Linked DNA regions of Homo sapiens. The protein of the gene in region 2 interacts with the protein of the main gene of each other region in a biochemical or structural test. Each region holds a gene or a part of one and is shown on either strand. Other genes may lie near its edges. The genes, in order: ENAM, FAM20C, AMTN and CALU.

What was found.
Region 1: of the proteins of FAM20C (region 2) and ENAM, one has a biochemical effect on the other in vitro, tested with the Homo sapiens proteins (one study listed by IntAct).
Region 3: of the proteins of FAM20C (region 2) and AMTN, one has a biochemical effect on the other in vitro, tested with the Homo sapiens proteins (one study listed by IntAct).
Region 4: of the proteins of FAM20C (region 2) and CALU, one has a biochemical effect on the other in vitro, tested with the Homo sapiens proteins (one study listed by IntAct).

The regions. Positions count from the first base shown.
Region 1 is NC_000004.12:70,631,744-70,639,050, forward strand, and holds part of ENAM (enamelin isoform 1 precursor), read left to right. Parts: intron 1-105; coding exon 106-150; intron 151-907; coding exon 908-949; intron 950-2,564; coding exon 2,565-2,825; intron 2,826-4,088; coding exon 4,089-4,151; intron 4,152-5,967; exon of another isoform or gene 5,968-6,046; coding exon 6,047-6,100; intron 6,101-7,307. UniProt on the Homo sapiens protein: Involved in the mineralization and structural organization of enamel. Involved in the extension of enamel during the secretory stage of dental enamel formation.
Region 2 is NC_000007.14:244,535-251,841, reverse strand, and holds part of FAM20C (extracellular serine/threonine protein kinase FAM20C precursor), read right to left. Parts: intron 5,428-7,307; coding exon 5,335-5,427; intron 3,528-5,334; coding exon 3,412-3,527; intron 1-3,411. UniProt on the Homo sapiens protein: Golgi serine/threonine protein kinase that phosphorylates secretory pathway proteins within Ser-x-Glu/pSer motifs and plays a key role in biomineralization of bones and teeth.
Region 3 is NC_000004.12:70,513,748-70,521,863, reverse strand, and holds the start of AMTN (amelotin isoform 1 precursor), read right to left. Parts: upstream 3,296-8,116; 5' UTR 3,210-3,295; intron 3,102-3,209; 5' UTR 3,087-3,101; coding exon 3,033-3,086; intron 1-3,032. UniProt on the Homo sapiens protein: Is a promoter of calcium phosphate mineralization, playing a critical role in the formation of the compact, mineralized, aprismatic enamel surface layer during the maturation stage of amelogenesis.
Region 4 is NC_000007.14:128,756,077-128,763,383, reverse strand, and holds part of CALU (calumenin isoform a precursor), read right to left. Parts: intron 4,514-7,307; coding exon 4,347-4,513; intron 3,593-4,346; coding exon 3,532-3,592; intron 1-3,531. UniProt on the Homo sapiens protein: Involved in regulation of vitamin K-dependent carboxylation of multiple N-terminal glutamate residues. Seems to inhibit gamma-carboxylase GGCX. Binds 7 calcium ions with a low affinity.

The DNA.
Region 1 (7,307 bases), on a different chromosome or scaffold from region 2:
TATTTTTTAAATGTTAGCTCTTCTCTTTGTGTTCCGTTAGGAACAATTGTTGAGCTTATTTCAACTGATGTTCTGCATTTGTCACTGACATTCTCTTACTTCCAGATGCACATGCCCCGAATGCCTGGATTTAGCAGTAAAAGTGAGGAGGTATGTACGTTCAGTCTCAGAGGAGAAGTTATCCAGAGTCCTATCCTACACATTTACTAAAAAGGAGAATATTGGAAAATTGTCTCATATATAATATTTCTTATGAAAAAGGTAAAAAGAGGGAGATTTGAAAGTCTTAAACTCTCAAATCGAGGCAAAGTAGTAATTTCCCCAGCCATCAGCCTACCTATGTACTTCAGTGTTCCTTTTCAAGGTAGATGTGGATTTGTGTTAAAATCTAGTTGATGTTACCTTATCTGCTAAGTTTTTTAGCTAGCAAAAGTGACCAATTGTACCAAGGGTTATTAGAAGGTAGATGCTTAAAAATAGAAATACCTTTCACATGACTCATATCCCAGATCATTAATCAAATTCAATACATATCAGAAAGATGAATCATCTTGTCACATAATTCTCATGTTCTCAAATCCTGAACTCAAAAAGAATAGAACAGAACATTCAAAAACTTTACAGTAGATCAGACTTTTATTTTCTATGATTCTCTATTGATTATTCTCAAAATAAAATTCTGACTTAAAAGTTAAACTGCCTGAGAAGCTTCTTTAATTGTATACTTTCTTAAAATTCAAGCATAAGTAGGAAAAGGTGATATGACTGTTGTGCATTAAAATCAGAAATTTTTACACTGGGAAGTTCTAAGGTTAAAAAAAGAAATTTTACTTATTTCTTACGATTTGTGCATTGATTTAATAAAAGTTTCACTTTGTATCACATTAATGGATTCCTTTGGTTGCAGATGATGCGGTATAATCAATTCAACTTTATGAACGGCCCACATGTAAGTTTTTCTTTATGTTATTTCTGATGATTTCTTGTTTATCTAGATAACTCCGTTATAAAGTTTGCCTTAGTCAATAGAGACACCAATCCACATGTTTTAAGTATAATGTAATCATTACAAAAGTTTCAAGGTGGAAAAATTATTGCCCCTATCCTCTCACACCAAATTTTCTTCTTATTCATTACTATTGTTCTTTCATGTAAATCAAAATAATTATTAATGAGAAATGTTATTTATTTGAGACTGAGTCTCAAATGTATAGTCAAGAAAAGATGGTTCTGGGAAAATATCACATAAGATGTCACAAATAATGACAATAAAAATAACATAGTAAGTATTGGTGGGGGGTAAGTTTTACTTGGATTATCTTGAAAGATAACACTACAGTTATGAAGCAAGTTTTATGTTATTTAAATAAATATAGGTTATTCTTGTCACTGTATGCTAATTGTCAGAACAGACAAATCAAGTATCAGGTGGTTCTTTGGCACAATTTTTCTGATAAAATTGTATGTTAGCATAATAACACTACACATCACTTTTGATTTCCATGGAATGATCATGAGGGCCATTTTGAGGGGAAAATCAAGGACTACATCCATTTTTTTGTAACCCTTTTTATCCAAGTCATTCTCTTTTAAAGCTCTTTGCCTAAAATAATCATTGTAAATTTCCTCTTCCTCAACTTTTGATTGGCTCAACTTTTTCATACCCCTGTTTTTAGTTTTAGTGACTTTACCTGTGATTTGAAATTTTTACCAACTTAGTTGTCATGAAATCCTGTGTCTTAGTGCAATATTTGCAATTTTGAATTTCATCAATCCACAAAGCGTGGGTACATCATCTAATAGATAGCAAGAGACTAATTAATGAAGACTGGGTATAGAGACAGGTGTTAAACCAGGGAGGAAATATTTGAATGAGAACTGATGTTGCAAGACTGATCATTCATAAATTATCATAAATTTAGAAATTAGCATTTTTATAAATTATCATAAATTTATAAATTAACATTTTTAGATTATAACTACTTTTGCTTCCCTGCCCAACTTTGTAATTGTGGTGATTCTGATAAAAAAATGGATTTAATGAGGATCCACCTGTAACCAAGAACCATAGACACCATATAAGTGTGTTTACACAGACTGAATTTTTATCCTCTCTTTTCCTTTTTTTCTTGTTTTTTATTTTTTGTTTACAGTCTCACTTCCTTTATCTTATTTTTGTTTTTTCTCTTCTTCATCCAGCCTTATAACAAATCACATGGGTTCTGAATACGACATTAAATCTTCTGTAACCTGACTTGTATACTTCTGACCTGAGTTAGGGTTTCAGAGTTAGAAAATCATCAGTCAAATTCTTAAACTGAGATTTCCCACCTAATTCTGCCTTTTGGTTTGTTTTGGTTGTTTGGCTTTCTAGAAGACGGAAGTTCATTCTGTAAGACAATGTGTAAGGAAATTCTAACTAAAGATCTGGAAGCTTCCATAGTTAAGTCAAGTTCCAGGACTTTTAAGCTCTTTGGCTGAGTTTTAGAGGCTGACATTAGAGGATGGAGACAGCCTGAATCACAGCTCTATTATGATTTCACTATTATTTGCTACCCTTTCAGATGGCACACCTGGGGCCCTTCTTTGGAAACGGTCTCCCTCAGCAATTTCCACAGTACCAGATGCCCATGTGGCCTCAGCCACCACCCAACACATGGCATCCACGGAAATCCTCAGCACCCAAACGTCATAACAAGACTGATCAGACCCAAGAAACCCAGAAACCCAACCAGACTCAGTCAAAAAAGCCACCACAAAAGCGGCCTTTGAAGCAGCCATCACATAATCAACCTCAGCCCGAAGAGGAAGCTCAACCCCCTCAGGTGAGACTTGCACAGAAAAATTCCATATCTGTAAATGGCCTCGGAGAGATTTGGAGGGCCATGCCACCCCCATATACACACTTCAATACAGGTACTCTGTTGCAATACCAATGTTTGTTTTGACATGCATCCAAAACTGCATGGCAAGTCGACTCCAATCTTGTTTGGTTGAAATTACCCAAATACTGTTGCCTTTTAAAAGCTCCTTTTAAATTACAGAGACAACATGGTGTAATAATATGAGCACTAATCTAACAGTCGAGAATCAAAGGTTCAAGTCCTATGCCTGGTCCTTATTAGTTGTATGCTATTGAACAAGTTACTTCACCTTTCTAGGTTCCAGTTTCCCCATGAGTAAACTAAATAGTTTCGAAGTTTCATCCAAATCTGTGCTTTGATGCTCTAAAATATTGCTCTTAAATTAACATTGCTTCCAGTACTAGTATGACATAAGGTAAGAAGATGTGCAAATGGTTTCTCAAGATCTCATCCAGTGTGGAGGGAGCTTCGAAAATACTGGCTTTTAGGCCGGGCGTGGTGGCTCACACTTGTAATCCCAACACTTTGGGAGGCCAAGGTAGGTGGATCACCTGAGGTCAGGAGTTCAAGACCAGCCTGGCCAACATGGTGAAACCCTGTCTCTACTAAAAATACAAAAAGTAGCTGGGCTTGGTGGTGCGTGCCTGTAATCCCAGCTATTCAGGAGGCTGAGGCAGAAGAATCGCTTGAACCCGGGAGGTGGAGGTTGCAATGAGCCAAGATCACGCCACTGCACTCCAGCCTGGGCAACAGAGCAAGACTCTGTCTCAAAAAAATAAAAAGAAAATACTGGCTTTTGGTCAGTTAACACTTATTATCAGACACTATTACAGACATAGGGAGTACCAAATTGAATGAAAAGACACTCCTGGATTGGAATCCTGGCTTCAGTGATTTACGAGCAATGAGATTTTGGGCAAGTGACCAAACTTCTCTGAACTTCATGGTCTTAGTAAAATGGGAATAGTAATAGTTTATATCTTCTATGGTTATATGAGGATGAAATGAGTTTAACAATATAAAATGCTCAGCACAGAGCCTGGAATGTGTGTCCAATGATACTAATTGTTATTATCATTATCGTCTTTGCCCTATAAAAAACACAGAGTTTAATGCAAAGGGAGATGTAGACTCCCAAGTTTCAATTGTATTTAGTTAGTTTCCTTCATTTTTTTATGTATTCTTTTCAATACCACATCACTCTGATTCTTTCTTTCTCTCTAGGCATTCCCACCATTTGGAAATGGGCTATTCCCCTATCAACAACCACCATGGCAAATTCCACAGGTGAGAAATTTTTTTTTCTTTACACTGTAAGTGAAAAATAATATTAGTATGTTATAATTTAAATTAATATAAATTCATACATTCTAATGGAATACCATATACCAATCAGTAGATGGTATGAAACAAAACCAGTGCATCAGTAATCATGCAGAAAAAGAATAATTTTTTGAATTTCATACTCAGACAAATTGGTGACATAAATACAACCTAAATCACCAAACAGATACTAATAAATTAGCTAATAAATTAATTTTAAAAGGTTGCACTACTTCATTACTATTTCCCCACATCCTTAAGAAATTTTTAAAAAACACACAAATTATCTTCATTTAATGTAATGGGGAAACTGGGACACAGGACAAAATGGAGTTTGAAAACCACAGGGTGAGCTATGATTAGACATTTTCATCCTATCTTACTGTTTCTAGCCACAGATATATCATTATAAAGAATCTTGGGGCTGGGCAAGGTGGCTCACGTCTGTAATCCCAGCACTTTGGGAGGCCGAGATGGGTGATCACTTGAGGTCAGGAGCTCAAAACCAGCCTGGCCAACATGGTGAAATCCCGTCTCTACTAAAAATACAAAAATTTGCCAGGCATGGTGGTGCATGCCTGTAATCCCAGCACTTTGGGAAGCCGAGGCAGGCGGATCACCTGAGGTCAGGAGTTCGAGACCAGCCTGACCAACAAGGTGAAACCCCGTCTCTACTAAAAATACAAAAATTAGCTGGGCATAATGGCAGGCACCTGTAATCCCAGATATTCAGGAAGCTGAGGCAGGAGACTCACTTGAACCCAGGAAGCAGAGGTTGCAGTGAGCCGAGATCGTGCCATTGCACTCCAGCCTAGGTGACAGAGCGAGACTCCGTCTCAAAAAAAAAAAAAAGAGATCTTGCAAAATATTGTTTACAAGAAGCCTCAAAGAATCTTAAACGTTTAAAATCATTAAAATAAAAAATAATATTGAAATTGCATCATAGGCATTAAAAATACGAATGGCAAAATAAACTTTTTGAACTAAAGAAATGTTAAAGGCCAGTTGCTGCTAAACAAACAAAACAACAGGAAATATTTGTTGACTGTTCATTCAGCTATGACATAGGTTTTCCTTGTCTACAACTCTATTACCAAGAAGGCTTTTTATCAGTGAGGAACAATTCATTTTAAGGAGTAAGAGTTCCTTACATTTTTCCTCCTTAAAAGAGTGACTTCCTTTTACTGGCTATGCTGAACTAAGGAAATTAAGGCAGTACAAGGTAAAGATTTTAAAAACAGATAAACATGATTCTCATGCTGAAGTAACTATTAATCTCATCTACATAAAACTTGAGAAGCAGAAACTCGGCCTCCAAGTTTGATTAGGAGAATTAACTTTAGTCAAATAAAAATATCATAGTAATAATTCAAGGATTGTCAGTTTGGAGTTTGTCCCCCTAAACATGAAGCCACATTCTAAAAATAACATCGTTACTTAATCTCTATTATTAGATGTTCTAATATGGATACTTGGATTCTAACAGCACTCAAATTTCTCTCTCTCACCCTCTCTCTGTATGTGTGTGCATGGTGTGTGTTTGTTGGGGGTTGTGGAGGGTATGTTTTTGAGTGTTGGAGGTGGTAAGGAGGATTGCCAACAGATGCAGCCATACAGAGTATTTTAAGTAGGATAATCTAGGATCCAGCTGAAGCCTTTGTATTTACCAGTATTCACTGTTAGATCATAATTCTTAGCAGCTGGACTGTGAGAGCTAATAACTCAAACGCTAAAAGCTCAGAGTACTAACTGAGCTCAATCATTGACTTGAGCTATTTTTAGACACCCTGAGTCTTACAAACAAATGGCGGCATCGAACGTGGTTTTCTCCTGTGTTCACTGTGTTTTTCACTTCTCAGAGGTTACCACCACCAGGTTATGGACGCCCACCAATCAGCAATGAAGAAGGGGGGGTAAGTACAAGTAAAACTACATTCTCCACTAGAAATTACAATCCATTCGCCCCTGCTTTTTTATCCACATCTAATAAGAAAGTTAAAATCCAACACATGAACCTGTAGCTCAAGCTTCCGTGATTTTTAGAAAATAAAAAAGTTAAACAAATCAAGCCAGTGGTCCAAAGATTGATGGTGGACTCCAGACAGTGATAAACAGAGAAAGAAGTAAGAGTTTCTTAGAATGTTATCCTCAAGAGGAAATTAAGTGATCTCTAACTTCCTGATTATATTAATACAAATAAATTGAAGCCAAGAAAAGATCAATTACTACTCAATTTCACTTTTAAGTTACTGGATAAACTGAACCCAGAACCCAAGTCTTCTGTTACTCTGCTCAATGGCCTTTTTACTATACCACACTAGGAGAAGAACCAAATGTATATCACAGAGTGATATACTCTTAATATTCCAGCTCTATGTCATCTAAAAAGTCATTTTAGTGATTGTGGCATAGCACCCCACCCCCCTGGAGCTTACTTCTTTTTCCCTAAATATGTGATATGTCCTCAGTGAACTGTGGTAACTTAATAGCTTGACTGGAGAGTGGGCGACAGATTGTTCTTTTTTTTTTTTTTTTTTTTTTTTTTTGAGACAGGTGGGAGATCACCTGAGCCTTGGGGGTGGAGGTTGCAGTGAGCCATAGCACCACTGCACTCCAGCCTGGGTGACAGAGCGAGACTATCTCAAACAAAAGAGAGGTTGGCATTACCTGCTCTAAGAGGTCCCTTTCAGCTTTAAGATTATGTATATATACATTTTGTAAGTAAGTCTTTTCATCTCCCACAGTCTATTATTAGCATGGCAGCCAGAGTGAACCTGTGAAAACAATAGTCTCATCTTGTTGCTCCTCTGCTCAGTCCCTGCAATGACTGCCAATTTCTTATCTTTCTTTTCTTTCTTTCTTTCTTTTTTTTTTTTTTGTAAGACAGAGTCTCGCTCTGTCATCCAGGCTGGAGTGCAGTGGCACGATCTCGGCTCACTGCAACCTCCACCTTCTGGATTCAAGCAATTCAGTTCTCATACCTCAGCCTCCCGAGTAGCTGAGATTACAGGTGTGTGCCATCACACCCGTCTAATCTTTGTATTTTTTTAGAGATGGGATTTCACCATGTTGACCAGACTAGTATCGAACTCCTGGCCTCAAGTGATCCAGCCACCTCAG
Region 2 (7,307 bases):
GGCCGAGGAAGTCTTGGATTTCAGGGGAGAAACTTGCGCTGCCCTGGAAAACGCAACTAATATCCAGAACCAGGAGTGGCCAGGGAAGCTGCTGGAGCGCTTAATAAAGTGCTGGCTCCAGGGAGACGTGAGAAGGGATTCCAGCAACGGCACCAAAGGTGGTCGATGGCCGCCTTGCAGCACAGAGCTCAGGGGCACTCCGGTGACCACCGTCCCTGGCCTGCTGAGGACCTGGGGATTCCAAGTGTCAGCCAACATGGGACATAGAGGTGACTTAATTCACCTGCTTGGACTAATAATCAACTCAGTCTTTTTTTTTTTTGAGACGGGGTCTCACTCTGTCACCCAGGCTGGAGTGCAGTGGTGCCCGATCATAGCTCACTGCAGCCTAGACCTGCTGGGCTCAAGCCATCCTCCTGCCTCAGCCTCCTGAGTTGCTGGAATCACAGATGCATGCCACCAGACCTGGCTAATTTTTCATTTTTTGTAGAGATGGGGTCTCGCTACGTTGTCCAGGCTGATCTTGAACTCCTGGGCTCAAGGGGTCCTCCCAGTACTGGGATTGCAGGCGTGTGAGCCACCGTGCCCGGCCACTCAGTGCAGGCGTGAGCCGCCGTGCCCGGCCACTCAGTGCAGCCGTGAGCCGCCGTGCCCGGCCACTCAGTGCAGGCGTGAGCCGCCGTGCCCGGCCACTCAGTAAGACCTTAGAAACGGGGAGGAAACGACCTGCCCCCACAGGCTCATTTTACAACAAAATGAGGAGTTCCGGAGATGCTGCTCTGAGCAGAGCCAGGCAGGGCATGTTCTCAGCATCAGTGGGCATCATTGACCCCTCCCTGCGTGACCCTGTGACCGTCTCTTTCAATCGGTCCTGAACCGAGAGCTTGGTCTGCAATGCAGAGAATGGAGTTTAAGCTGGAGGAATTCCCACAGTCACTGCATGGGGCGCTGGCACCTGAGGATGGGGAATGTCAGTCTTTGGAACCTTTGAAATACATCACCCTAAAAGTTGCAATAAAAATTGTAAAAAGACGTGGATAAGAAGCAGTCGGGCATCCAGGCATCACTGGAGCGGAGCCCAGCCTCCGTGGGCACCAGGGTGTGCATGGCGGGCTGCAGTGCGGTCAGTCCTGTGGACGGTGGGGCAGGAGGCGGTGGCTGGACAGTGCGGTCAGGGTCGACCCAAGGGCTGACAGCGGCCGGAGCTCAGGCGTGCTTAGGAAGCCCTGGACTCCCAGGGTGGGGAGGCGAGTTTCAGCCCCTTAAAAAAGATGGACAGCTCAAGCCATCCAAACAGGGACTGAATTGTCTGTGAGCCAATGCGTTCCCCATCACTGGAGGTGTGCCTGGCTCAGGCACAGCTGACCGGGGAGCCCTCAAAGACCCCCACGCTCAGGTTCTGCCTCTGCCCCGATTCCTGGTGTGTAGGGCCAGGCACCAGTGGGCCAGGGAAGGGAGCCCTTCTTCCCGCCTCTGTGGAGCTTTCTGTCCTATTTTTCTCTTATTAATGGGCTTTGAGAGGAAGAAAGCAAATGAGGATCTCGGTGAGCCCTGGCTGACGGAACGGAGCTTAATTAAATCATGGATTCGGGGGCCGGGTTCTGACAAATTCATGAATGCATTAAGAGAAAGCGCAGAGTCCGTACATCGATCTGAAACATCTGCAGGAAATGAGCTTTTAGGTCAAGGTTTTATGTGCCAGCAAATCTGAAGACGCAGCTAATCAGGGGCCCTAATTGGATTTTATCTGCATGAATTAAACAGATGGGCCAGGAGAGTGGCTGAGGCCCCCTACAGTGAGAGCCTCCGATCCGGAGGGCCCCTCCCCAGTGGGGACCTTGCTCTGCAGGGTTTCCTGGGGTGAGGGTCCCTTCATTCTGCAGGGCCCACCATCGCTGGGACCACTCTTGACCTTCAAGATGGAAACATAGGGGACCGAGTCCGGGACAGGTAGGAGAGTGTCCCCAGAGCTCAGCCAGGTGAGCATCGGAAATGGGAACAGGCTGTGCAGCAGGGGCCTGGTACCAGAGAGGCGCTTGGAGAGGAGGACTGAGCCCTCGGCAGAGCCACAAATGCCAGTTTCTTTTCTTTTCTTTTTTTTTGAGACAGGGTCTCACTCTGTTGCCCAGGCTGGAGTGCAGTGGTGCAACCCCCACTCACTGCAGCCGCCACCTCCTGGGCTCAAGCAATCCTCCTGCCTCAGCCTCCTGAGTAGCTGGGACCACAGATAAGCGCCACCACGGCTGGCTAATTTTTTAATTTCCTGTAGACAGGGGTCTCACCACGTTGCCCAGTCTGGTCTCAAACTCCTGAAATCAAGTGATCCTCCCACCTTGGCTTCCCAAAATGCTGAGATTACAGGCGTGAGCCACCACGCCCAGCCCAAATGTCAGGTTTAAAGCAACCTGGGTAGATAATTAAGTAGAAAATCATGTGTTTATGTGTGCGCTGTACTTATCACGTAGAGTCTTGAAGGTTTTATAAACCTCAGCACCAACAAAGACATCTATTCCTGCCTAACGTTCAGGCCATCCTGTATCCCCTCAAGGGCACCAGGGACCAGGGGCCTGGGCCAGCCCTGCTCACAGTCCAGCCACTTCGCCGAGGCGGGGGAGGCCGCCCACCCTGTTACTATACAACGGGGGTCCTGCTGAGTGTGTTTAAGTCCGAGTGGGGAGGTCCCATGGATGTTTGCTGGCTGGGCCACCTGGAGAAGGCTTCCTGGAGAGGCTAGGACCTCCCAAAAGTGAATCGTTTCACCAGTTAAAATAAACAAAGAAATGGAAGAAACAGTCTCTCTGTGCACAGAAGGACATTGGTTAAACCCTGATGGTGGCACCTTGAAGCTGTCCGTGGGCTGGCACTCCGGGTGTGGAAGGAGGCACAGGGCACCCCTGCGTGGGAGGTGGGTTGGGAACAGCACTGTGAGTCAGCACCCTGGTGTGGAAGGGGGCACAGGGCACGTGCCAGGCTACCTGGAGAGATGAATGCGGGCCCCCGTGCCAGGCTACGTGGAGAGATGAATGCGGGCCCCTGTGCCAGGCTACCTGGCGAGATGAATGTGGTCTCCCCGTGCCAGGCTACCTGGGGAGGTGAATGTGGGCTCCCCATGCCAGGCTACCTGGAGAGATGAATGCGGGCCCCCGTGCCAGGCTACCTGGAGAGGTGAATGTGGGCCCCCGTGCCAGGCTACCTGGCGAGATGAATGTGGGCTCCCCGTGCCAGGCTACCTGAAGAGATGAATGCGGCCCCCCGTGCCAGGCTACCTGGAGAGGTGAATGTGGGCCCCCGTGCCAGGCTACCTGGCGAGATGAATGTGGGCTCCCCGTGCCAGGCTACCTGGAGAGATGAATGCGGGCCCCCGTGCCAGGCTACCTGGAGAGATGAATGCGGGCCCCCGTGCCAGGCTACCTGGAGAGATGAAGAAGGTCCTCCAGAGCTTCTTGTCCCGTGTGACGTCCCGGATCTCCTTGGTCATGTTGACCATCCTGCCGGCCACGGGAGGGACCCGGCGGAAGTCCAGGATCCTGGCAAGAAACGGGCGGGGAATGGTCTGTGCTCTGTGCGGCTCAGCGGGCCTCTGTGTCCCTGCCTCCAAATAAGAACGGGGCAGGGGAGGGTCTGTGCTCTGTGCGGCTCAGCGGGCCTCTGTGTCCCTGCCTCCGAATAAACCCAGCCCTAGGTCCGGTGGCTCTGCCTGGCCCCACGGTGATGGGGGTGGGAGAGGCCCCTGAGGGACTGGGGCTGGCGATGCCTCACTGATGGGCACACAGCACCAACTGCCTGCATAGCTAAAGCCTGCCCTCATTCCAGGGCTAAATTTAAAACAAAATTAAATTAAAGGAGCCACTTTTAATGGAACTCCTTCTGAACCACACCACAGGCTCCCACTCGCTTAATTAAATGGAGAATGCAGGGCGAGAGCTTTTCTTGCTGACGGAGGACGTGGTGATTGTCCTGTGAGGCGAGGTGACCAGGTGTGGAGGGACGTGGGCCGTCTGCCAGGGCCGACCCGGGACCCAAGGCCCGACCACGCCTCTGCGTGGAGCACCCTCCCCCTCCACCTGTCAGACGGCTCGCCTGGGTGCTGGGCTCTGTGTCCTGTTTTATAAACAGGTGGACCCGAGGGGGGCTGTTTCCTAATGACCCTCCCCGTCTTTCTTTTCATAAAAAGCCCTTTTTGGGTTCAGGCTGTTCTAGATAGCTGAAATGGTGGAAAATCTGGCTTCTGGCGATTTCTATAGTCACCACAGAAGACTTTGATCTTTAAAAAAGCCCTTTAAACTCCAATGTACGCCCGCGTCACTAGGGATCTTGTTAAAATGCAGATTCTGTCCCAGGTCTGGGTGGAGCCCAGGACTCTGCATTCCAACTAGCCCAGGGCAACCCCAATGCTGCCGGCCCTGGGGCCGCACCCCAGGCTGGGACGTGTCAGGGCCGTGCAGGGCAGGCAGGGAGGCTCTGGGGGCTGAGGGTGGCGCCTCCTCCCTCCACTGCACCAGGGCAAGGTCCTTCAATCCACGGGGCCCCTCTGGACCTGGGCCAGGCCCGTTTACTGCCCTTGGAGGGCACTGAACACGGACCCCCCACTTTCCCAGCAGCAGGGCCAAGCTGACCCTCACAAGGGGTTCACTTTCTGCTGGGCTGGGGCGGCCCCTCTGGAGACAGGCGACCGTGGGGCCTCCCAGGCCCCCTCATCACAAACATCGCTTCCCCCTCCTTAGGAAGCCTGCTTTGGTCTCCCAGAGAAGCCTGTGCTCTGTGAGTCTCTGTGTTAAGATTCGCAGCACTTAATACTCCCCCTTCCCTCCCTGCCTCCTTCCCTCTTTCCTTTTCCTCTATTACCGACCGCACAGCAGCTTCTGTGCCTCCCATCTGCCTGAACTGTGGGGGTGCAGGAGGGGCCCATCTGGATTAAGGTGCCCTGAGGGCAGGCGCCCTCTCCCTCGGTGACAGAGGGATGATTAGGAGCGTGGGAACCTGGGCAAATCGCCGCTCACAGAGCCTCAGTTTCTCATCTGTAAAGGGGGATATGAAAGGCTCTCCCTACCGCGTGTTGTGTGGGCTACGATGACACAGAGGGCCCTGCTCAGGGCAGCACTCGGGGTGGGGGGAGAGCAGGCACCGGCGCTGCCTGATGGTGACAAAGGTGACGATGACATACAGGACCCTGCTCAGGGCAGCACTCGGGGTGGGGGGAGAGCAGGCACCGGCGCTGCCTGATGGTGACGAAGGTGACGATGACGTCCTGCTGTGTCCAGTGCAGGACGGCCTCACTCACCGGTGGGTCTGAGCGCACGGGAGCGCGGATGGAGGGAGGAAGGAAGGGCTCACCTGTCCAGGTGGAAGGCAGCAATCTCCGCATTGTGCCTCTCGTAGTCAGAGAAATAAAAAAAGTCAGGGGGTGTCTCCTGCTCCCTCGTTTGTCTGAGAAAACAAGACAGAAACAGAAACGGTTTGTCACTGAGAAAGCCTCCAGGGGCCGGAGGCAGGCGGGACGTGCTGGGTTCCTCATATGAAAAATGCGGTGGAGCTCCAGCCTCCTCAGGGCCACCCTGAGCCTTCGGGACCCTGGGCACCCAGCTGCCGACGGGCCCTCAGAGCAGCGCAGGCACGTGCGACGGAGGCCGGGGGTCCCAGCTCCCCGTGGCCCTGACCCAGCTGCCGACGGGCCCTCAGAGCAGCGCAGGCCCTTGCGACGGAGGCCGGAGGTCCCAGCTCCCCATGGGCCCTTCTCAGGTAAGCTGCTCAAAGGCCTCTCCTGCACTGGCTGGGGGCCCCGGCACGTCCACCCTGGGACCCACAGTCACACCGCAGGGGAGAGGCTGGGCTCGGTGTCCCAGGCCTGGCTCAGCCCCGGTTTGCTGTGTGCACCCTGGCACCGCCCACCCTCTGGTTTCCGAGTCTCCCCCACGGCCTCCAGGACCCCTTGGCTCTGCCGTGGACGCCTCCCACAGTAAGAGCCCAAGAAGGGCAATGTGGGCACCGCCCTGTCCCTCCACCCTGGCCAAGGGACAGGAGGCCACAGGTGGGGCTGTTTATGAAAGGTCAGTGCCATTCTGTAAACACCATAGGGCTCCTGTATCTCAGGCCAATACTCCAGGGGAAGGGGAGCCTAGCCGCAGGGCCCTGTGAGGTGCCGGTCCACGCAAGTGTTTGACCGATGTGGTCATGGTGGAAACGTGGAGGAATTGTCAAGGTCGTGTCTGAGCATAAGTGTGTAAGCGCGTAAGCGTGTAAGCGTGTAAGCATGCTTCCTCCACCAAGGCCGGCCCCTGCCATGCTTCCCCCACCAAGGCCGGCCCCTGCCTCCACTGGAGGGAGAGCCTGTCCCAGGGCGTCCACCCAGGCCAGGCCCAGGGAGGGAACTCAGCCTCCAACCCAGGCTTCCTCCACCAAGGCTGGCCCCTGCCTCCACTGGAAGGAGAGCCCGTCCCAGGATGTCCTCCCATGCCAGGCCCAGGGAGGGAACTCAGCCCCCAATCCAGGAAGAATTTACCAGATTCAAACTCTGGTGACCTTTCCAGGTGCTGGAAACCAGAGCTGGCGGGAATCCCCAGCTCGCACGCCCTGCAGCCCACACCTCCCACTCAGGGCAGACTGTGTTCCGTCTGGGCTCCAACACTCCAGCAATGCAGACTACAGACGCCGCCCCGGTCACTTTCCCAGCCCTCGGCTTCCCCGGCCGGGTCCTTCCTTCCATATACGCAGCGGAGGTCCGCCCAACTCCTGGGAGCATCCTGGCCCTGCCACGGGCCGACATCATCGCCACACGAACAGCGGGGTGGGGCACAGGTCCTGTATGTCATGTCCACGTCCCTTCGGGGGGACCACGTCTGGGTCACAGGCCGTCAATTACACACCAGCCCGTGGCTCCCGTCCTCCCACGCTGTTCTCAGAAAGCTGTGGCCACAATTCTCCGTGTTCCCGGAACGTTTCTTATGGGGGGTTAAAGATGTGTACCACCCACGGCCTTTTTAAGAACTAGTCTCTGCTGCTAGAAACTCTGAGAACAGACCACTTTCCACGATCCCACATAATATTCGCCTTGACAGGGCCCTGGGTAGGCGCAAGGCCAGATGAGGATTCCAGGAGCTACTTAAAAATAAAATGCGGATGGTGGGCTGGCGCCTGAAGGTCACATTTGCTTCATAACCCCACTGGGTCTGTGGCCATTGCTATCTCTGTGCACTTCTGAAACCAGCAGCAAAGGAGGGTTGGGGTGCAGGGCAGGGCAGTGGCAGGTATGGCGGCAAACTGAACATGCTGCCCGCCAGGGTCGCCCTGCAGAGCCGAGGCCCAGACTG
Region 3 (8,116 bases), on a different chromosome or scaffold from region 2:
CGGACCACTTGAGGTCAGGAGTTCAGGACCAGCCTGGCTAACATGATGAAACTCTGTCTTTACTAAAAATATAAAAATTAGCTGAGCATGGTGGTGCACGCTTATAGTCCCAGCTACTCGGGAGGTTGAGGAAGGAGAATCACTTGAACCCGGGAGCCAGAGGTTGCAGAGTGAGACTCTGTCTCACAAAAAAAAAAAAAAAAAAAAAAAAAAAAAAAAAAAAGAGAGGTTGGTATTATCTGTTCTAGGAGGTCCCTTTCAGCTTTAAGATTATATATACATATATATACATAAAATACATATATATAATATATATAAATTTTGTAAGTAAGTCTTTTCATCTCCCACAATCTATTGTTAGTATAGTAGCCAGAGTGACCCTGTGAAAATGATGGTCTAATCTTGTTGCTTCTTTTCTCAGTCTCTGCAATGACTACCAATTTTTTTTCTTTTCTTTCTTTTCTTCTTCTTTTTTTTTTTTTTTTAAGTGGAGTCTTGTTCTGCTGTCCAGATTGGAGTGCAATGGAGTGATCTTGGCTCACTGCAACCTCCACCTCCCAGGTTCAAATGATTTTCCTGCCTCAGCCTCCTGAGTAGCTGGGATTACCGGTGCACACCACCACGTCCAGCTAATTTTTTGTATTTTTAGTAGGGACGGTGTTTCACCATATTGGTCAGGCTGGTCTTGAACTCCTGATCTCAAGTGATCCGCCTGCCTTGGCCCCCAAAGTGTTGGGATTACGGGCGTTAGCCACCGTGCCTGGCCAACGACTGTCAATTTCACTCAGAGTAAAAGCCAGAGACCCCACAGTGGTCTACAGGGCTCTGGGCCCCCAGTAGCTCTCTGATCTTTCCTACCTCATTTCCCCTCCCTCACTCTGCTCTGGCCATCCAGCCATTTTGCTGTTTCTGCAACAGGTAAAGTCCATTCCTGCTTCAGAATTTCACCTCCACCTGTTCCCTCTGTCTGGAATGTTCTTTCCCTGAACATTGGCTTTACTCTCTCACCTGTTTCTTTACTTGAATTTCCCTCTTATTGAGGCCAAACCTGACTGCTGTCCTGAACATGCAGCCTGCCCCTTCTCCACTGTGCACCACCAGCCTGCTCCATCTCACCCTGCTCTGGGATCTTTTTTTCATAGTGCTCACTATCTCCTAACCTGTCATGTGACCTACTGATTTAGACTGCTCACCATTTATCATTTATTTCCTTGCTAAAATATAGACTTCACTGTGGTTTATTCAATGATCCATCTCAAAAAGATAAATCCATGTCTGGCATATAGTAAGAACTCAATAAATAGTTGTTGAAGGAATAAAATCTTGTTTTCTTCTAGAGCCTTCACTTTCTGTAAATTTGATTTGTCTTGTATTTATTTCTTCTACTCATTGTGTTTTCCATCTGGTACCTATCCTCAAAATTTTGATCTACTGAAAATAATTGCTAGGCTGTTGTATGTGTCCACATTTGCAAATGGATTCACTCTTTTTACCTTTATGCTAACTCAATACATTCATTTACAAATAATAAAAAATACCTTGTCTATGTGTCGTGATGTTTCATTTGGTATTGTTTCCATACTGAATAGACATTTCAGTGTCGCCTCCCTGCTGCCCTGCCCCACTAGCTCTCTAGCTGCTCTCATTGTCTATTAGCAATCTGCTGTGGCCTGCACAGCCGGCCTGCTCCACCTCAGCCCACCTCACATGAGAGCTGCACTCCTGGAAAGTTTTGCTTGTTTTGAGTTTTCACCAATTATGTGGTAATTTAAATATACTAGAGAAACTATTTTGAAGAATCTTTCGGTCAATGTATTTGACGAAGTGAAAGAACCATTTGTTTTATAAAAAAATTAACTTCATACTTTACCTTGTTTAGAAAATTAAACTTTTACAGACAACTTCTTTCAAGGAGGACACACACACACAGACACACACACACACACACACGTATGTAGTATGTATTTGGGATAAAGTAAGAAGGAGGTTGGCTACCGTATCTTGCTTCATCCTCCCCCCGCATAATCCCACCCTGTTCATTTCCTTCACATAAATAATCACAGTTATTATTTATAATTTAACATTTCTTTAAAAATCATTTGAGTAAAAAATAAAAAAATTGGCAAGTGACATTGGTAAAAATAAAAAAAAAGTTAAAAAAAAAATTAATGTCTACAATCCTTGTGAACACCATGAAGGATTATGCCTTTTTTTCCCTTCTCACTATTGTTTCTTCAGCACCTAGCACAATGTCTGGCATATAGAAAGTTTTTAATAAATATTTGTTGATTGTACGAATGGATGCAGAAGTATTGAGTAAGCTTGAGGCCCAACTAAGTATGCTTTCTTTTATTCTGTTATTTCATAGCAAGTATATTGTAATTTTTTTCTTAATGGTCTTGAACCATCTTGAACAGTCAAAGAGAAGTCCACCTAGAGATCCAAACCATTCATCCCTATGTCTACAAAATAATGGAGTAAATGTTGGAGTTATAGGGCTTTTTAATTTTTTCCTGTTATATGTGAATACTATTTATGATTTAATGTTCTAAGTCAAAAATTTTGATCATTTTAATCATATGCCTTTGATATCATATGTTTTGGTGGTCTTTTTAGAATTTATACAATCTAGATATTTAGCATTTCCAAGTAGAAAAATTAGAAAATATAGTTCACCTCTTTATTCATGAGCAAATAACTAGTTGCCAAGAAAAAACTTCTTTTTGGAAAATAAAATAATCATCCACTTAACACATTCATTTTTCTCCTAATTTCTAGCCTATTGCTCTGCCAAAATAATTGACCTTTTACCACGATGGAGTGGATGCATTTAAAAAAATGCAAGTACATTGAAATATGTACCAACAGCTTATTAGCTTGTCATTTTCTGTCTTGGAAAATAAACACTGGACACTCTCAGGGAATGAGTCACAAAACAGAGCAGTTTTGATGGAGGGCAGGAGAGAGGTAGGTCTGCAGCTAGAGATGCTGTTGAAACTGGCTGGCATATAAAACAAACATAACATACTTACTGGTAATGACCGAGTTGATCCTAGAAGACAAAACAGTAGAATCGTACTCCTCATGTTTCAGATTGCTACCTACAACAACAAAAAAGTGTTACTCTTCCATGTATTTTTTTTCCTTTTAAGAGAAAATGATACTTTAAAAACAAAAGTTCTACTTGAAACATGGTCAATTAATGTTACCTTTGGGTCCACGAGGCAAAATGTACAATACTCAAGGTCCAGTTGGTTTCTCAAGTTTACTCTGGTGAAAAATTTTACCCTTCAATGATGTATGTGTTTGTAGAAGAAATTTAAACTCAGTTCCAGGAGATTGGAAACTGAGAGACCAATCAGGATTTAGCTGTCTGTTAAATCATTTGTTTTTTTTTCATTTCCCAACACTTCATTAGGTGGGTTATTAGCTGCAGACATTATGTTACCCAATGTCTACCATTTGAATAGAAGGTGTTTCAAGGAGACAGGCCTTATGTAATTAAAAAAAGATGCAGACAATAAAATAATTTAAATGCTTCTTCACCTCCTTCTTCTTCCCAAATGATTTCTCAGATGTACGTGTTTTATCATGTAAGTATGAATACATAAATCAAACATCAAAATATAGGGCTCTGTACAAGGTTTAAAAAATGAAGTCTACTATGTAGATTGCTCTGGAACTTATGTTTACTTAACAAATAATGGACAACTTTATGTGTTAGTACATACAGGTTTATTTTATTTATTTAATGGGTACACATCATTATATCACATTTTGATGAACATTTAATCCATTTCCAGTTTATTTTGTAATTACAAAGGTATCACAAGCACCATTCTTATAAAACCTTTTTTTCACACATATGGGAGTATTTTCGTAGGTGTTATTCTTAGAAGTAATGTATCAGAGGATATGTACATTTAAGTAATGTATCAGAGGATATGTACATTTAAGTAATGTATCAGAGGGTATGTACATTTAAGTAATGTATCAGAGGGTATGTACATTTAAGTAATGTATCAGAGGATATGTACATTTATGGCCAAATGGTGAATGGCTTGCTTTATATTAAACAGGGAAAATGATACTATAACCTAAGCAAAACACAGGGAATCAACTGAGATTTCTTTTACAAGAAGAACAGTTAAGTGCTACTTAACATTTTACCATGAAGCTGTGGGCTTCACCTGGAATTTTTGAGATATGCCCCAAAGGGAGGTGGAGGTCTGTTAATCAATTTCTGAGACCATTTCAATGATGAGCCTGTGTCGCACCAGGATTTGGGATTTGACCTTTAAAAAAGAAAAACAAAAAAAACCTATAGAGTGTCTATGAATGGAAAATTAACTGAGATGATACATTTTTTTTTCAAAGCTTCTCTCTAACTGTTCAATTAATCTATATAATCAATGTTTGTTACTCTGATACTCTGTTAGGAATGGGGAACATTATGTAGGAGGAGAAATACAAGATCAACAAGTATGTGCAAATATAGGAGTATTCAGGTGTAAGAAAGAGTGTGGTGAATTTTGTTGGGGGCAAAAGGACAGGAAAAGCTTAAAAGAGGAGATCATCCTTGAGTTTGGATTTGAAGAATAAAAAAAAAATTTATGAAGAACGCAAGGAGAGCACCCAGGCTGATCAAAGGTCTAGATTTGAAGTAGTGACATTGCTTTCTGTCACTGGAACAAGATGGGGTGAGGATAGCAGTGGAAGACAGGGTTGGAGATGATATCTAATTTTAACTACCTATAGCTTTTTTTGGTTTGTTTCTATCACTGATTTTGGCACTTGGTCAGATATTACTTTATATGGCTTTTTTATTATTTCTTGACTTTTTGTTTCTCTTGAACTAGATGGAGAGTTCCTGGGGCCGCATCTTATATTTCTTGTCTTTCATGTTTGTAATATTTTAAAGCATCATATGGTCATCGAATGTTGACGAATAAATGGTAAAGGCATATACTGTGGGGAAACAGAGCAAGATTGAGTTGAGGGAAGATTTTAGAGAAGAGATTGGGCTTTAGGTGGATTTGGAGAATAAGTATAATCCACAAGACAGACTAGCATGTTAAAGTGGCTGATAGTGAGAGGAGCAATGAGACATAGTGCTGAAGGATGTGGAAGGAAAGCAACTTTAGGTTCTCATGGGCTTTCACAGGCAAATTCATTGTTTCTTTTATTCAATCAATTCATTTTTCCAGCTCTCATTTAACATAGATTCACTCTTTGTTCACCAACATTGTGTCAGTGTCTGGGATAAAACAATTAATGGAAGGGACAAAAACCCTGCCCTTAAAGAGCTTAGGTTTTGTTGGGGGAATATGAAATATTCAACCAGGTCATTGCAAGAGAGGGACTCCGTGACACTGGGCATCTACTTTATTTGGGCATTATTTTCAGTGAATGTAGAGGGTTGGGAGCGTCATATATATATATATATATATATATATATACGTATATATATATATACGTATATATATACATGTATATATATACATATATATGTATATATATACGTATATATATATATACGTATATATATATATATATATATATTTTTTTTTTTTTTTTGGGTGGAGGTAGAGTTGAATTTTATGTCACTGTTGTTCTTGGCTTAGGTGAGGAGACCTGTGTTATAGTGTTAGTCTAGAATGTGGTTCTATTCAATAGTTTATTTGAATTGAATAATTCCTCGTGACTGGGCATCAGGTGATTTAGGGACCTCACAGTGAGTCAATTGCTTGTTGCAGACATGACTCCAACCCTCAGCGGGAATCGGACATGCCCTAGCCAGGAAACTGAGCAGTCAGTGGGATTAGATCAAAATAAACAAGCAAAATTAAAAACACTGAGTAATTTCTTAGGCAAGAAATTTTAAGTCTGAAAGCAGACAACTTGCAATAATGTGATTACGGAGTTGGGAGTCAAGAAATACATATTATAAAAGGAAAAGAATTCTTAAATCATTCCAAGACAAGGAGACATCAGCAAAAACAGTGAGATAATTTATGTTTCCAAAATGACATAGAACATCAGAATTCATTAAAGTGTTTTATGAACTATAGGACACATCTCTTAGCCCTTTAGTTCCAGGCATTCCTTAATCTTTCTTATTAGCTTTAGTTGTAAGTTTCTTTGGGTTATGGACCCTTTTGAGAAGCTGATTGAATGCACATGTCATCTCCTCAGAAAAATGCATATATGCTTATGAATGTAATGATTATGAAATAACTTCAGGGATTTCATGGATCTCCTGAGAGCCCAACTATAAAGAAACAGGTTAAAAATCTCTGGGTTAGAGGAGTCTTAGTGGAATTCCTTAGTGATTTGTGTCATCCCTGTGCTTTCTAGGATTTCTCAAGGCAAGAAACATACCCTCTCTCCAACTCCATCACACTCAATGGATATAGGAAGATCTAGGATTACCCAGACCTGAGGCACTCTTTATGAATCTCAGTCTAAGAGCATCTTTTTGACAATGAAAGGATAAAACAGACTGGAAATTTTCTATATTTCCTTACACCACTTGGTAACTCACAACATTAAAAGGATTCTGCGCACAAGATTATCATTAATTATAGTAATAGCTTGATTGAACAAATTAAGTACCTTGATAATTGTAAACGACATTCAGCATTTCTTGATGCATGGCAATCCCTGATACCTACTAAACAGAAGCCTCCACTGTACTGGACAAGGTATTGTACAAGGTGCTCGGGTACAAAAGTGAGTAAGAGGAAGCCCTTATTTATGTTCTTGTGGAAAATGCAGCAAGTCTCATATCACTATATAATGTGGTAGAGGCAAAATGGATGTATGCACAAGAGGCTAGAAAAGATGCATTTTGATCTTCTTTTTCTGCATTCGTTCATGTTATTTCCTCTGCCTGGAGTCCTCTTTTTCATCCTTGACTGTCAATGTTTTACTCACCCTTAAAGATCCTTCTTTATGCTACCACCTTCATGAAGCCTTTCTTTTTGTTCCTCTCATTTGGAGTTAGACTTTTCTTTCTCTGAGATGCTTTTGGAATTCATGACTTTGTTATTTATTTTATTCTACCTCACCTGATGCCATTGTTATTTGATTACTGTTTTGAGATATTAAATTTCAAGGAAGATTATATGTTTTGATATTTTCTTTAGCTCTCAGCTTGTATGTGATAGAACAATAAATATGGGTTGAATTGAATTGACTTGTTTGCCTTTATAAATTTACAAAAGTATTTAAAATTGTCAACCAGTCCCCAGAGGAAACCGGACTTACGCTTGGAGGCCAGAAGTAGAGCAACTTCTCTATGGAGTAGTTTAGTAGGTGCCCGAAAAACAGCCACTGAATTAAACATATCTGAAATTCTACTAAATAGATCAAACTATATAGGTTTTTACTAATCTTTTAAAGTTTTGCCAGAGGGGGTATCAGGAAACTATGTTCAGACTTCTTGGCAGATTGAATTGACCTTTGTCATAAGTGATAAAGTTCAGTGTACAATGTCATTACAAATGTGGCTATATTATACCGAATTTACTCATGAAATAGGGTTAAGCTTGCAAGAGTGTGGCAACTTTGTATTCTGTCCGTGTAGACATCTTTCTTTCTTTCTCTTTTTTTGAGACAATGTCTCCTTCTGTCTTCCAGGGTGGAGTGCAGTGTCGCTATCCTGGCTCTCCTGGCTCACTGCAGCCTGGACTTCCCCAGCTCAGGTGATTCTCCCACCTCAGCCTCCCAAGTAGCTGGACTACAGGTGCGCACCACCACATCTGGCTAATTTTCTGTAGAGACGGGTTTCATGTTGTTGCCCAGGCTGGTCTTGAACTTCTGGGTTTAAGCAATCCTCCCGCCTCAGCCTCCCAAAGTGTTGGGATTACAGGCATGAGCCACTGCACCTGGCCTATGTAGAAATATTTCAACTTAACAATAGAATTACACACTTATGGAATTAAAAAAAAAAAGCTTGGGTGTGATATTTAAAATAGGAAAGAACACCCTGCAAATGGGCAACAGATGAGGATGCTGAAGGGAAGGTAAGAGATACAGTACTAGTGTGAGGAATTAATTAATGATTTCAGTGTTTGGACGACAATATAACGCTTTAGGTAAGGGTAAGGAAGGT
Region 4 (7,307 bases), about 130 Mb from region 2:
CTAATTTTTATATTTTTAGTAGAGACGGGGTTTCACCAGGTTGGTCAGGCTGGTGTCTAACTCCTGACCTTGTGATCCGCCCACCTCAGCCTCCCAAAGTGTTGGGATTACAGGCATGAGCCACCATGCTCGGCCGAATTTCTATTTTTAAAAGACTCAGTCTATTTGATGATTTGAAGGTATTATTAATTTTCTTGGGTTGACATTATCTTTAAAAAAATGTTTTTAGAAACACATATATATTTTAGACATATATACCTCAATGTTTACAGATGAAATGACATAATGATTGGGATTTACTTCAAAGTAAGAAGGAAGCAAGGAAGTGGATGTGGCTGAGAAAAAACTGGCTGTAAGTTGATTGTTGTTGAGGTTAGGCATAGGTACATGGGGATTCATTATACTATTCTAATTTGGGGGCAGGTGCAGTGGCTCACACTTGTAATCCCAGCACTTTGGGAGGCTAAGGTGGTCAGATCACTTGAGGCCAGGAGTTCAAGATCACCCTGGCCAACATGGTGAAACCCCGCCTCTATTAAAAATACAAAAATTAGCCAGGTGTGGTGGTGCATGCCTGTAATCCCAACTACTCAGGAGGCTGAGGCACAAGAATCGCCTGAACCTGGGAGGCAGAGATTGTAGTGAGTGGAGATCACGCCACTGCACTCCAGCCTGGGTGACAGAGCAAGACTGTCTCAAAAAAAACATAAATAAATAAACAAATAAGTTGTGTACGTCTGCAATGCTCTATAATAAATTTTAAAAATAAAAATAATTATCAGCACAACTTTGGGTGTTTTTTTTTTTCTTTCCCTATGTTTCCACAGGCACTGATGGGGCTTCTTTTTAATGCTAAATTTATGAGGCGAAGAACTTTGTTTCTTCATGATCTCCTTCAACAGGGCACTAGAAGCTGAAAGATACTGTTTGGGAGAATTTTAGATTTACAAAGCCCAGCATCCCAGATGTAAAAGTGTTTGCATTAGTTACTGACTTGTAAAAAAAAAAAAAAAAAGCACACATGCACAAGATAGTTTTGGTAGCTTCAAAATATAACTCCTCTGCCCTTGAATCTATATGATACACAGGGAGACAGAAATATCTCCTTATTTGGCCTCAATGCTTGATAAGTGATGTAGTTAACAGTTATAAAAATTCCTCTCCTTGGGAGGTTCAAATGAGTTCCTCAGTTTTAGCAATGGCAATAAAATGGCAAAAGCCAAGAATAAAAAGATAAATCATTTAAAAGTAGAAAACCCTAGTAACATCAACGTGGGCTCAGTAAATGCACCTAGGCACTTATCCACTGTCCTGATAAACTTCTCCAAAAAAAAAAAAAATCAGTTTAGGAAAACATCCATCCTATCTTCCATTGCTCATCCTTCTTTAAAAAGTTCAAAGTATGCCACTGAACCTAAGAAAAGGGAGGTAAACAGTCAAGGAGTAATTCAATTGGAATAACTCTAGCATGTAAACAACAGGTATGATAAGACAACATCTAAGTAAAGCAGTGACTTGCTCCATACAGTTTAATGACAGGTGATAGAGGTAAGGATTAAGTCTTCCTTTCAGGCTTCAAATAAACATTTCAGGTAACTATCAGAGGTCTAAAAACAAACGGGCTTATCTGAAACACAAAACCAATGGTGTGCTAGAATAAGTTATTACAAATGACAATAAGTATGTGAAATATTAAAATATCTAATATCTTTCTAAACAAAGTATTTGTAACAATGACATTTGTAGTAACAGTCTTATACTTTCCATCTTTACTCACTTTTCTAAAGAGATGGAGTCTCGCTATGTTGCTCAGGTTGGAGTACAATTGCTATCCACAGGCACAACCTCACTACTAATCAGCACAGTTTTGACCTGCTCTGATTCTGTCCCGGGCCGGTTCACTCCTCCTTAGGCAACCTGGTGATCCTCTGCTCCCAGGAGGTCACCATATTGATGATGAACTTGTGACTATAGTCCAGACTCTTGGACTCAAGTGATCCTCCTGCCTCAGCCTCCCAAGTAACCGGGTATGCCACCACACCCAGCTCCTTTACTCATTTTAATTTCTGTCACAGTAATTGGGAAACAATTTGCTCAACTACTTGGTAAGAAAGACAGCTTTTTTTTTTTAAAGCAATGAGAATATCTTAAAATTAGTCTGATGATAATAAAACAGAGCTTTACTTGGGAGAAATTAGCCTTGAAGGTGTGACATCCAAAACAATTTTTTTAAAAAAATTTAGACAACTAAAAAGGGAAATGTCAAAAGGGAGAAACTTAAAAAACAAAAGGAAAGTAGTCAGAGAATCAGAGAGAAAATATGAACAGAACACAGTAAAAAGGAATGGCTACAAGAGGGATCAGCAACTCCCCGTCATTTATTTATCCATCTTTTAATCTATTCCCTATCTCCTTTCCCTGGGTTTCCCTATGTCAGTCTGGGCTCCCTGCAACTCTTTTTTTTGTTTGTTTGTTTGAGACGGAGTCTCGCTCTGTAGCCCCGGCTGGAGTGCAGTGGCATGATCTCAGCTTACTGCAAGCTCTGCCTCCTGGGTTCATGCCATTCTCCTGCCTCAGCGTCCCCAGTAGCTGGGACTACAGGCGCCTGCCACTACACCCGGCTAATTTTTTGTATTTTTAGTAGAGACAGGGTTTCACTGTGTTAGCCAGGATGGTCTCGATCTCCTGACCTTGTGATCCGCCCGCCTCGGCCTCCCAAAGTGCTGGGATTACAGGCGTGAGCCACCGTGCCCAGCCCCCTGCAACTCTTTACCATCAGTTCCATAGAGCATGCAGGATACACTATATCTGTGCTGTTGAGGATGGTAGCCACAGGTGCTTATTAAGCACTTGAAATGTGGCTGGGATGTGCTTTAAGTATTAAAAAAAAACCCTCAATAATTTACATTAAGTGGAAATTATAGAGTTTTAGAATATTAGGTTAAATAACTACTGAAATTTCATCTGTTTCTTTTTACTTTTTAATGTGGCTATTAGAAAAGTTAAAATTACATATGGGGCTCACATTTATATTTTGATTGGGCAATGTGGCTACGGATACTTTATCACAACCCACTATCACACTGGTCTGGTTAATGATCTGGTGACAGCTAATGAGCTAGTGAGAATTGACCCTTGGAGTAAATTGTTTCTATGGGCAAATACATCTTTCTTTCTTTCTTTTTTTGAGACAGTTTCACTCTTGTTGCCCAGGCTGGAGTGCAATGGCGTGTTCTCGGCTCACTGCAACCTCCGCCTCCTGGGTTCAAGCGATTCTTCTGCCTCAGCCTCCTGAGTAGCTGGGATTACAGGCGCCCGCCACCACACCCAACTAATTTTTTTGTATTTTTAGTAGAGACGGGGTTTCCCCATGTTGGCCAGGCTGGACTTGGACTCCTGACCTCAGGTGATCTGCCCGCCTCGGCCTCCCAGTGTTGGGATTACAGGCATGAGCCACTGTGCCCAGCCAGCAAATACACCTTTCAAAGCTTCTCAGCTTTTCTAAGAAAAACACTAAAAGCAGAGACTTACCAATATACTCTTCTAGATCAATGAAACCATCAGCATTCTTATCTATATCTTCCATTGTTTCCTAAACAGGAAAGAATAAGAAGAGACTATTAAGTTGGTCTCTGAATTTGCCAGAAGAAAGTAAAGTATCTAGTTTAGGTAAACATTTATTATTCATTAAACACACTTGTACATGTATGTATGTATGTATGTATGTATGCATGTGTGTCTGTATGGTTAAAACCATTTCTAGCCAAGAAATGGTAAAACATGAGCAATTTCCTATGCTTCAATCTAAAATAACTGAGTCTTCCTGACAGAACACTGACACTGCTTAATGACAAACTATCCCATCAAGCCCATGATGATCTACCTGGTAGCCTTAGTCATGCTAAAGTCACACTAACAGGAGATGTGACCAGTGATTATGTGTTTAGCTATAGATAGTCTATGTTGTCAGTAACTGCCTTCTGTGAGAGTTCTTTAGTATCACTGTTATTACTCAATGTCTGACTATTGGTCATGGGATATTTTAAATAATGGGATTTCCCCCCATTCTTACAATATGAAGCTACCAATGAAATGGCAAAATACATTATATGACAGAAGGTATTATCATACTAAACAGAATGCCCAAGGCACCTTGATCAAGGTCACAGAAAAACAGTGACAGACCTTGGATTCTGAATCTGGCCAATACTTATATAGCATATACAGTGATATGCTATATAGCATATATATATATAAGATATGCTATATAAGGCTAAAGGGGAAAGACAGAATAAGCCACAAAAAGAGAAACTGAGTCCCTGTTCAGAATCCTTCATCTCACCCACCTGTACTACTATATCTTTCATGTAGTCATACTCCTCAGGGTGCAGGAAAGCTGTGAACTCCTCCTTGGTGGCAATGAGGTCTCCATCCTTGTCTGCCATTTTAAACCTCCGCTCATCTCTAACCATCATCTGTTTATAGTTAAATCCATCATCAGGATCTGGATCATCTAGAAAACAAAAATTTAGGTCAAATCTTAAAAGACTTTCAGAAAACATGAAAATGTGTGGGGTGGGAAATCAATTTCCAATAAAGATAAAACCATGCAAGGAAGAAATAATTGATGACACAGGTAAAACTGCAGCAGTACAAAGACATTTAGTTTTGGGCTACAGCTCCAGGCATCAGATCTCAGAGTCAGCTCCAAGTTCACATGGAACTCTGGCTCCTGAACTATGTAACTCACTGTTATGCTTCACTATTGGTATTAAGGCTACTAGAAGGCTTGAATTTTCTAGTTACATCTGGAAGGCAGTGGTGGCTCTCAAGTCCCATACTGCCTGAGTTTGAACTCTACCATTTTCTAGCTGTTTGGCCTGTGTCTTGGTCTCTTTTATCTGTAAAATGGAGCTAGCAATGGTGCCGGCTTCATAGGATTGTTGTAAGGTTTAAATGAGAAAATATATCTAAGTGCTTAGAACAATGCCTGGCACATAGTTGGCTTTCAACAAATGTCAGTTATTGCTACTTTTATTAAACATTAGGATCTCATTAAAAAGATAGAAATCAAAGGCCTTCTACCTCACATAATGGACACTTGGATTCAAGCAATAGAATGCCACCACTTTGAAGGTCACATTCTGTTTTTTTTCAGTCAACGCAGAAATCTACCAAGAGTGACAGGTATTGTTCATCCCCATTTACGTAAAATTCTAGAAAATGCAAACTAACTTAGAGTCACAGAAAACAGATGAGTGATTGCCTAGGGACGGGGGAATGGCGAGAATGAGAAGGATTACCAAGGGACATGAGGAAATGTTGGGGGGGTAATGGATATGCTCATTATCGTGATTGCAGTGGTGGTTTCACTGGTAAATACATACGTCAAAACTCATCAATTATGCACTTAAATACATACAGTTCACTTTATGTCAATAATAACTTGACAAAGGTATACAAAAAAAAAAACCCTTAGATTACAACCAAATTGAATTTGGAACTACCCATCTGTTATGACATCGAGCTACACAAGCAGCAGTTATCTAGTCTCTATATAAGAATATAGAAAAGTGAAATTTAGTTTTTTAAGCTGAAAAAATGTGGCGTTAACTGCAGAAAATAAAATTCTTTTTCAATCTGCGTTCCTGTATAAACCAAATTAAGATAACAGACATGAAGATATTTTAAAAAGTAAAAGACACCACATTAATGGTAAGAAATTATTGTTCCTGCAACATATTGATTACATAAAAAGGATATGACACTGCTTTTATAAAAAAGACCCACAGGGCCCCTTTAAGAATAACATCATTACTGCTGACCTTTGAGATTGTTCAGTCTTTCCATACTTTAAGCACAGTTTAAAGAAACAAAAACAAAACTACTGTACTATTTTGAGAGTTGAGCATTTTGAAGCTTCATTTTTTATTGAGTGTCAAAAATTCAGTCAGACAGCTTAACGAGTCATAAGGCTTTGGGATCCTGTGTACACACACACACACACACACACACACACACACACTCAAAGCCATAATAGGTTGAGATGGAGAACGTAAGGCAAACAAGCCTTTCTCAGATACTAAAGTGTCTCTTCTAAACAAGGTTTCAGGACTATGTAACATAAATAAGAAACATAACAAGACAACTTATACTTTAAGACTAGATTCTTACATAAGTGCTCTCCTCCCCTCCTTGGGGTAAAAGGTAAAAATGGTGACTGGACTCAAATAGCCTAATAGCAACATGCACATATATATATAAGGAGGGAAACAGGAAGATACAATTTTTTTTTTTTTTAATTTATAGTCAGGTCCTTGTTCTGTGTGGCCCAGGCTGGAGTGCAATGCAATCATAGCTCAATGCAGTCTTGGACTCTGGGGCTCAAGCAATCCTCCTGCTTCGGCCTCCCAAGTAGCTAGGACTACTGACAAGTATTACCACTCCTGGCTAATTTTTAATATTTTTTTTGTAAAGACGGGGTCTGGCTTTGTTGCCCTGGCTGGTCGCGAATTCCCGGACTCAAGCAACCTTTCTGCCTCGGCCTCCCAAAATGCTAGGATTATAGGCATAAGCCACTGTGCCTGTCCAAAACTTTATTTTTAATGACAAAACCTATTTTCCTATAGCTCTGCTTGGAATGCTGTATTTATCCTAAGCACCAGTTTTGGCCCTAGCTGGCCTGTATACAGCTTTAGGTAGGCTCTTGATCTAGTTTTGCTATAGGCAGGGTAGATCTCAGTATTTCATATTTTCCTTGTGGCAGAGACAGTGTTAACCTTTCTCTCATGGATAGCGGATTCATTGAGACAGATTTTAACTAAGAGCTATGATGATTTATACCTGAACTCCAAATTGAATCAAGAACACACAGTAACAAAAACTCCTCACTTCTCTAAGCCGACTCATGACCCCCTCAGTGCTGTCCACCCTCATGCCTCTGGGGAAAGATGCCTTATAAAGACATTGCTTCCCAGCCAGTGCTTCAGCTTATGCAGTCTCAGGCAGCAGAAATACCCATTACGTTGAATCATCTGCCTTGTGAGGCAACAGAGCTCTCAACAGATTTTTATGCACATAATCATACACAGCACCGAAGAATCATTCTGGGCAGCAAGTGAGTGCCTAGGTCGGAGCTGAGATTTATTTACACACCATTTTGTTTAGATCACCAATAGCCTACTCTTTGCTTTGTATTTATCATTAATTCCAAATAAATCAGGAAGGTGTTGGGTCTCAGCCAGAGCAAGAAGCAGGATGCCTCTCCATCTGTGCTGACTGTTTAATACATGTGTTCTTAATTGGGT